2 linked regions of the Homo sapiens genome follow. The protein of the gene in region 1 interacts with the protein of each later gene in a biochemical or structural test. Each region holds a gene or a part of one and is shown in the gene's direction. Other genes may lie near its edges.

Region 1 (3,870 bases):
GGACTTGTTATGATCGAGGGCTGCTAGGCAGAGATGTTGGCTGCTTCCTGGGCCCTGGCAAGTCACTTTCTCTTTCTGAGATGCCTTTACCCCGTCTAGAAAATGAGGGACTTGGAGTCATGGATTATTAAGGGCCCTTGTGGGATTCAGAAACACTAGATGTAAAATATTCAGCCAATTTGAGCAGTATGGTCTAGGTTGCTCTGGGAGGGATCAGAAGCCATCTTAAAGCCAGGGTAAATGGTGTGTTTATGATTAGCTCAGGAGCTTCCCAGAACCCTCAGAGGCGGGGCTGTGGAATCAGCAGGGGGACTGGCCCTCAGAACTGCAGTCTGAACATCTAGTTCTGGAAGGAGCTTGCTTTTTACATATGAACTGTGCACTCACACAAGGCACACAGAAACTGCTCTCAGAGCTGAGAATATTTTCCCAAACAGTAAGAGGCCCCTCCTTGAAGCCATCTCTCCTTGGAAAGGGGAGCTCCTCCAGATGGGCCTGGGCTGCAGCCAGCAGCTGAAATTGCCAGCAACAAGCCCAGAGGAAAGTGCTTCAAGGCTGGAGATGCAGGTGACAGGCCTCAGCCCTCCCTCTGTCTGTGTCAACTAACTTCCTGGGTCTCATTCAGTCCCTGGTTCTCTGCTAGCCTTGGGCTTCCTTCACTGTCTCCCCCTACTATCCCCCAGGTCAGAGGAAACCGAGAGCTGGCCTCCAGCCTCATCCCGGGGTAGATGTGGGCCCCCTCCTCCCCCCACCACACACTGGAAAGGGGGTACAGTTTCCATTTCCTGGTGAGAGCTGCACAGTTGTACCAAGGGGCCCCTGGTTGCCAGGGAAACAGCAAGGTTTCCTGAAGCTGAGCTGAGCTGAGCTGCATTTGCAGGCAGATCCGTCCTCTGCCTTCCACTCCCAACCCCATATGATGACTGTCCTCAGCTGACTGCAGCTTGGGGAACTCATAATCAGCCAGTGAAGACACAGAGGCAAACACGACAGAGGCCCTGTCCTCAACTTCCCACCAGCACAGTAAATATCACCATTTACTAAGAACAGGTCTTGTGCCTGGCCTCTTATGTGCTGCCTTTGACATAACTTAGGTCTTATCCTCCAACAACCCTACAAAGCAGAAAAGGGAAAGCTTCAGTTTTGTGCTTGAGATCACCTTGAACTCAAAAATGAGCAATAAGCCCACGGTCACATGGCTAAGATTTTCCCTAAGTCTTGGGGGAACAGGGAATATGTGGAGAACTGGAAGGCATTGAGCTGAAATGTCTCCATGATTTCTACTCTCCTAGTTCTGTTCCTTTTAGGTCTTACTGGGTAAATCTGATTGACTTTGTTATGTTTACTTTTTTTTTTTTTTTTGAGTCAGAGTCTCACTCTGTTGCCTAGCCTGGAGTGCAGTGGTGCCATCTCTGCTCACTGCAACCTCTGCCTCCCAGCTCAAGCGATTCACCTGCCTCGGCCTCCTGACTAGCTGGGACTACAGGCACACACCATCACACCTGGCTAATTTTTGTATTTTTTCGTAGAGACGGGGTTTCGCATGTTGGCCAGGCTGGTCTCAAACTTCTGGCCCCAGGTGGTCCTTGCCGCTTGGCCTCCCAAAGTGCTGGGATTACAGGCATGAGCCACTGCTCCTGGCCTCTGTTATGTTCACTTTTAAAAAGCAATACATAGACATTGTTAAAAGAGATCAGGCCAGGCTTGGTGGCTCACGCCTATAATCCCAGCACTTTGAGAGACTGAGGAGGGCAGATCACAAGGGCAGGAGTTCGAGACCAGCCTGGCCAACATGGTGAAACCCATCTCTACTAAAAATACGAAAATTAGCCAGGTGTGGTGCCGTGCACCTGTAATCCCAGCTACTCAGGAGGCTGAGGCAGGAGAATCGCTTGAACCCGGGAGGTGGAGGTTGCAGGGAGCTGAGATTGCGCCACTGCACTCCAGCCTGGGTAACAGAGCGAGACTCCATCTCAAAAAAAAGAGATCAAATTGCCCAGACCTGCTTAAAGTGGAAAGTAGTGGTCCTTTGTTTCTCTTCTCCTTCTCTTAAGAAGATTGTTAAACTTTCATCTGTTGCCCTCCTGAGTGCTCATTAGCCAGCTCCCTACCTGCTTCTCTTATACTTCCCAAATCAGTTACATCTCTTTTTGCATTTATTTTTACGTATCATATCTTTGTTCCTTCACTGTAGACCCTGTCTCCTGATATCCTCCACCCGCATTCCTTATCCATTTTCAATGAGATATGTGTCCTGTTTTCCTGTGTGTTCCTGTCTTTTTTTTTTTTTTTTTTTTTTTGAGACAGGGCTTGCCCTGTCACCCAGGCTGGAGTGCAGTGGTGCAACCTTGGCTCACTGCAGCCTCCACCTCCTGAGTTCAAGCAATCCTCTCGCCTCAGCCTCCCAAGTAGCTGGGACTATAGGCATGTGCCACCATGTCCAGCTATTTTTTTTTTATTTTTTTTTAATAGAGATCGGGTCTCACTATGTTACCTAGGCTGGTCTCGAACTCCTGGGCTCAAATTATCCTCCCACCTCAGCTTCCCAAAGTGCCAGAATTATAGGCATGAGCTACCACGACCAGCCTGAAAAATCCAGTCTTTACAGTGGCCTCAGGCACCGGTCTCAGATCCTACATCCTACCACACCACTCCCTGCTACCACACCAGCCACACTGAGCTCGTGGTGGTTCCTCACTTGCACCACCCCGCGGTGTGCCCCAGTCACACTCGTGAGATCCTCTGACCCCTCCACCTGGGACTACACCCCTTGTCACTTTCCTGACCAAGCCTTGTCTTTTCTCTGTAGTTCTTATCTCAGCCTGATGAGTGCATTTGTTATTCATTCCCATTACAGCATAAGCTCTAGAGAAACAGAATTTAAAAAATTGCTCATATTTCTGCATGCACAGTGCCCAGAGCAATGCCTGACTAGGATAGGCGCTAAATGAGTGCATACTCACTTGTTCAGGAATGACAGTCCTTCAGATATTGCAGCAGGTGGTTGGAAGCACTTTGAGTCCTATCTGCAGGCGGTCAAGCTCTGGGTTCTGAAGCCATCCTTGTTGACTTGAAAAGGGGGCATGCATGGTGCAGATAGTATAGACTCTGGGATCTAGAAATTGTTGAATTCAGTTCTAAGCTGTGTGATCTTGGCTCATTTATTGCGATGCTCCAGCCTCAGTTTCCTCTCTATAAAAAAGGAGAATCTGATGTGTGGAAGGATTTCTGAGAGTAGTAACTGAGACGGTGCTGAGACAGGTACCCTGCCTAGTGTGGAGGAGTCAAGGGGTCAGTGGTGGGTCAGTGCCATGCCCGCCCTCCCTTGGGGATCCGCGTCCCTTTCCCATACTGCTGTGAATGTCTGGACACCATCTAGTCTGTCCATTGTCTTCTGAAAAAAATGTGATTGGCCTTGAGCTGGGTCATTGGGTCTGATTTAACCTGAAGGGCTGGGGGCAGCTGGAAAACAGCAGAGGGAGGAAATGTAAGGGAAAGAAAGGGGATGGTTAGAGTTGGGGGGAATCTCACATGCTGTCTTTCTTCTCTACAGTGGATTCTGCTGCGAACCGGAGACCATGGCCAAACCAGCACAGGTAAGGGGCCTCTCTTTCCTGAAGGTGGTACTCAGCCTTCTCTGGGCCTGGGATCCTCCTGGAGCCACTAGGCCTGCTACAGAGACCCCTGGTACCTTCAGCTTGAAAAAAGGAGGAAAGGTTCTTAGGCTTTGCTTGCTCCTGTTACAAGTCATGGCTCTTCAGATGCAGGTCACCATAATGTAATATAACCCACAATATCCTAAGCAGAAAAGGATGTGTATTGGCTTATCTGACAGAGAGGCCCAGGGCTTCAGGTCTGGTTGAATCCAGG
Region 2 (3,870 bases), about 64 Mb from region 1:
TCAAACTACTGGATTTGTAGTTAATTTTTTAGCCTTTTAGGAACTATTTTCTGCTTAGCGTCTCAGCTACACAGCCAGCTTAGGAACTGGCAACTGCCTTGAACGGAAAAGATGTGGAGAATGTCGGGTTAATTATAGTATGATCTTGGCTCCTCAAATCTTAGCTGCTTTGGTTGTTCTCCAGTGCTTTCAAACAGTTGTTTTTCTGTTTTGTATTACTATTTTAAGTTTTATCCAACTAGGGTGGTTAGTCTGATACAGGCAACATTTAGGATTAGAAGTTTCCAATTCCTATTTTCCATGATTACTTTTAAGACATTCTCAAAGCATGAAAATATAGTCTTTATCTTTAATAAGTGTTAAGCTTGTCCTCTGTGTATTTTTGCTATGGCCTCCTAACATTAGCATGATATAAAATCTTTAAAGCAGGAAACAGAAGTAACATTTATTGAGTTCCAAAAACATGCAGGCCCTTAATAAAGATTTTACCAATATTTTCAAGTCTAGTTGGAAAGATAGCACATTTCCAAAATGATATAAATTATTACCTAATATTGTACTTACATATCAAATGATTTGAAATAATACTAAAGGAAGACAAGAACATTTGTTGTACACAACTGTTCACTTAAACTCTAGAACAAGCATATGTATGAAGAGATGATGTTTCCATTTTAACAGGTGAAGAAAAATGATCAGTTTAGAAAAATTTGAAAATACAGAATCACCTACAATCTCCTTAGAGATAATTACTTAGAACATTTTTGGTCTAAGAACATTTCTAGTCTTTTTCCAGTGCATATAAAGCTTTTCAAATTAGCTGTGTGCAGTTCTAGCAGTTCAGCTTCAATCTGTTTGTAACTTTATTTCTAATGTATTTTACAATTAATTGAAATTTCTTTAGTTTACACTTTGAAATACTGATAACATTTTAATAGTGCTGACATAAAGTTTTCTAAAATATATATAGCTGACTTTTTTTTAGTAATGATCTGGTACAATGGAGTATTATTTCTTTAAGAATTATAATTTTATGTTAATTATTTATTGTGAGTGTTTTGGAAGCTGGTATAAATATTTTGCTACTTTTTATTAAGCTTCCTAATAATTTTTGTTTTTATTTTAAAGGCCAAACTGTTTTCAGATAGTAGTTCAGCACTTTAGTGAAGAACATTACATCTTTTACTTTGCAGGAGAAACTCCAGAACAAGCAGAGGTAAGATTACTGTTTCTCAAACTACAGTATACTTTTATGTTAGCCCATGTTTTCTTATTAACTGGAATAGAAAATGATCGCATTCAAGATAAAGTGACAGAACGCCTGAAATCTAATCATCTCTTATTTTAAGGAATGAGATTTCATATGTAAAAAGTTTTCTGAAAGAAATGCAAAAACAAACACAGTGAAGGGTTATTAGGAATGAAAACTCCATTTTAAATTGACCTTTAAATACTCTATGATGTTGAGGCCAACTGAGAATGCTCATTTAAAATCCTCTCTGCATAAAGGTTATAGGTCATCTCAGTATAATCCAAAGGTAAGCCAGTTAACCAGTTAGTTTTGCTAACAAGCATTATTCTTCACTGGTTGAACTCCATGTCTGAAAATAAAAGTCAGTCAACACAAGGAAAGATATTTTAGGAATCTATTCTCTAAGCCAAGTCGAGATATAATGTCTACTTTAGATTAGCTATTAATCCATGTGCAGTGTCCTTCTTATAGCGTCTATTAAGTAATTGTGTGAAGAAATAATATTTTTTAAAAAACACTCTTTAAAAAATATTTTGCAACAAAGGGAGAACCCACCTCTATAACAAAAGTAAAAAATTAGCTAGGTGTTCTGGCTTATGCCTGTAGTCCCAGCCACTGGGTAGAATGAGGCAGGAAGATTGCATTAGCACAGGAGTTTGAGTTACAGTGAGTAAGATCGAGACACTGTAAGCCAGCCTAGGCAACAAACTGAGACACTGTCTCTTAAAAAATTTTTTTGCTTTCTTTGAACCCTAATATTTCTGGAGTATATGGTTGTATTTTATACAAATACAGCTAAATTTCTGCTTATATTCTAACGAAGGAACTTAAAGGTGGTTAAGAAGTGAAAGTGGCTTTGTTGGAAATATAATTTGCCAACCCTAGATATGAGGAAGATGCTCTTAAAACTAGATCCTAGCGTGAGACTCACAGAATAAACCTGAATGAGCTTACAACTGAACGTCATATTTCACATCTTTATCAAATATCTCATTTAATGCTCATTTCACATGTAATGCACATAAAATTTTACGGCTATGTATCCCTAATTTTTAGATGAGAAAGGTAGTGCTCAAAACATTTTGGTAACTTACATGATTTTTTTAAATGTTAGAAATTGAGTTAGAAATTTAAACTTCAGTATCCTATTTTCTAAGTATTTTACCATGGTCCCTCTTTCTGAATAAAATGTCACATACCATAATGACATTTCAGCATGTTTTGCAAGCCTAACATAGAACATTTTTTAATGTATTTATACATAATATTTCTGTATTTCCATAAATGGTATTTCCAGTTTTTGTTGATTTATTGGGCTGTGGGGGTCTCTGGTTATTCTCTTCTATTTCAAAAAGCTATGGTAACTGATTTGGTTTTAATTTGCTGTAATATAAAGACAGTCTCTAGATATTAATAAAGTTCAGCTTCATTGAAATAGCCAACAAACTAAAGACATAATTGAATAAAGCAATAGTACACAGCTTTCCAGAAATATGTAAAAACCAAAGTGAATATTTAGATTTGTTTTTAATAAACCTTAGTTCTCTCCTTTTCCCCAAAGCACTAGATAAACATTTTAAAAATATGGCTGCAATTTGATTTGAATATTAGGCTAAAATGATTTTTAAAATCTAATGTTATATTTGAGAAGCTTAAAAATAACCCAAATCCCCTTATACATTTCTACCTGTATCATGGTCTAAAGTATAGATTAATATGCTTGTCATGGGATCGGTCATCACATTATCAGTTGGTTTTACAATCAGCACTCTCCCCCTCTCACAAAGTGTATCAAGTTAAATTCCACCTAAGCTTGCCTCAAGTATAACAGCTTAATTATACAGTTAATTTCCCCAAGGTAGTATCTGTTTGGGAGAAATAGTTTCTTTAATGTAAATTTGATTTTTTGGCTAATTAATGGCCACTCGATGTGTTTCATACATAAATTCAAACAAAGATTTATACAGAATTACAATTGTTTTGGTTGTTTTATTATTGTTATTGTTATGTTATTGTTATTTTATTATTGGTTATTGTTATGAAGTACAGTATAGTCTGAGAATAGAAATGGCAGTCTAGAGAAGGAAAAAATTGTTGAATTTGAAAAAAAAAACCTAACTGATGATTTGGAAGCCAAATAAACTAGTGTATATTTCTTTGAAGTGCTGTTTTTCTTTGCAGGATTGGATGAAAGGTCTGCAGGCATTTTGCAATTTACGGAAAAGTAGTCCAGGGACATCCAATAAACGCCTTCGTCAGGTGAAGCTTAATTTTCTTGGATTTTTAATTGTCACATTTTGCTCTAACACTTTGCTCTTTTTATTTTATTTTTATCTGAACTGTTTTGGACATCATATGGGGTTAAGCCATGCTGCCACTTGCTTCAGTAGCAGGAAAACGTTACTTCTTTATGAAAGAGAATGTTCTTTCTTAGTCCATGCCAACTGTTAAAAACATAAGAAAGATTATTCTTCCACTTTAAATAACAACACTAAACCAACACAGCAGAAACGGTTCTGTTGGGCACTTAATTTTCCTTCAAAAACTTATTTTGGCCTCTTTCAAAAAAGTAGAACATTGAAAAGATCATCAGATTTATAGCACTAATCCCAATAAAC

The links. The genes of interacting proteins can lie anywhere in the genome.
Region 2: the proteins of ANXA6 (region 1) and RASA1 form a complex in vitro, tested with the Homo sapiens proteins (one study listed by BioGRID).

What each region holds. Positions count from the first base shown.
Region 1 is NC_000005.10:151,147,610-151,151,479, reverse strand, and holds part of ANXA6 (annexin A6), read left to right. Parts: intron 1-3,553; 5' UTR 3,554-3,578; coding exon 3,579-3,596; intron 3,597-3,870. UniProt on the Homo sapiens protein: May associate with CD21. May regulate the release of Ca(2+) from intracellular stores.
Region 2 is NC_000005.10:87,368,685-87,372,554, forward strand, and holds part of RASA1 (ras GTPase-activating protein 1), read left to right. Parts: intron 1-1,128; coding exon 1,129-1,216; intron 1,217-3,433; coding exon 3,434-3,511; intron 3,512-3,870. UniProt on the Homo sapiens protein: Inhibitory regulator of the Ras-cyclic AMP pathway. Stimulates the GTPase of normal but not oncogenic Ras p21; this stimulation may be further increased in the presence of NCK1.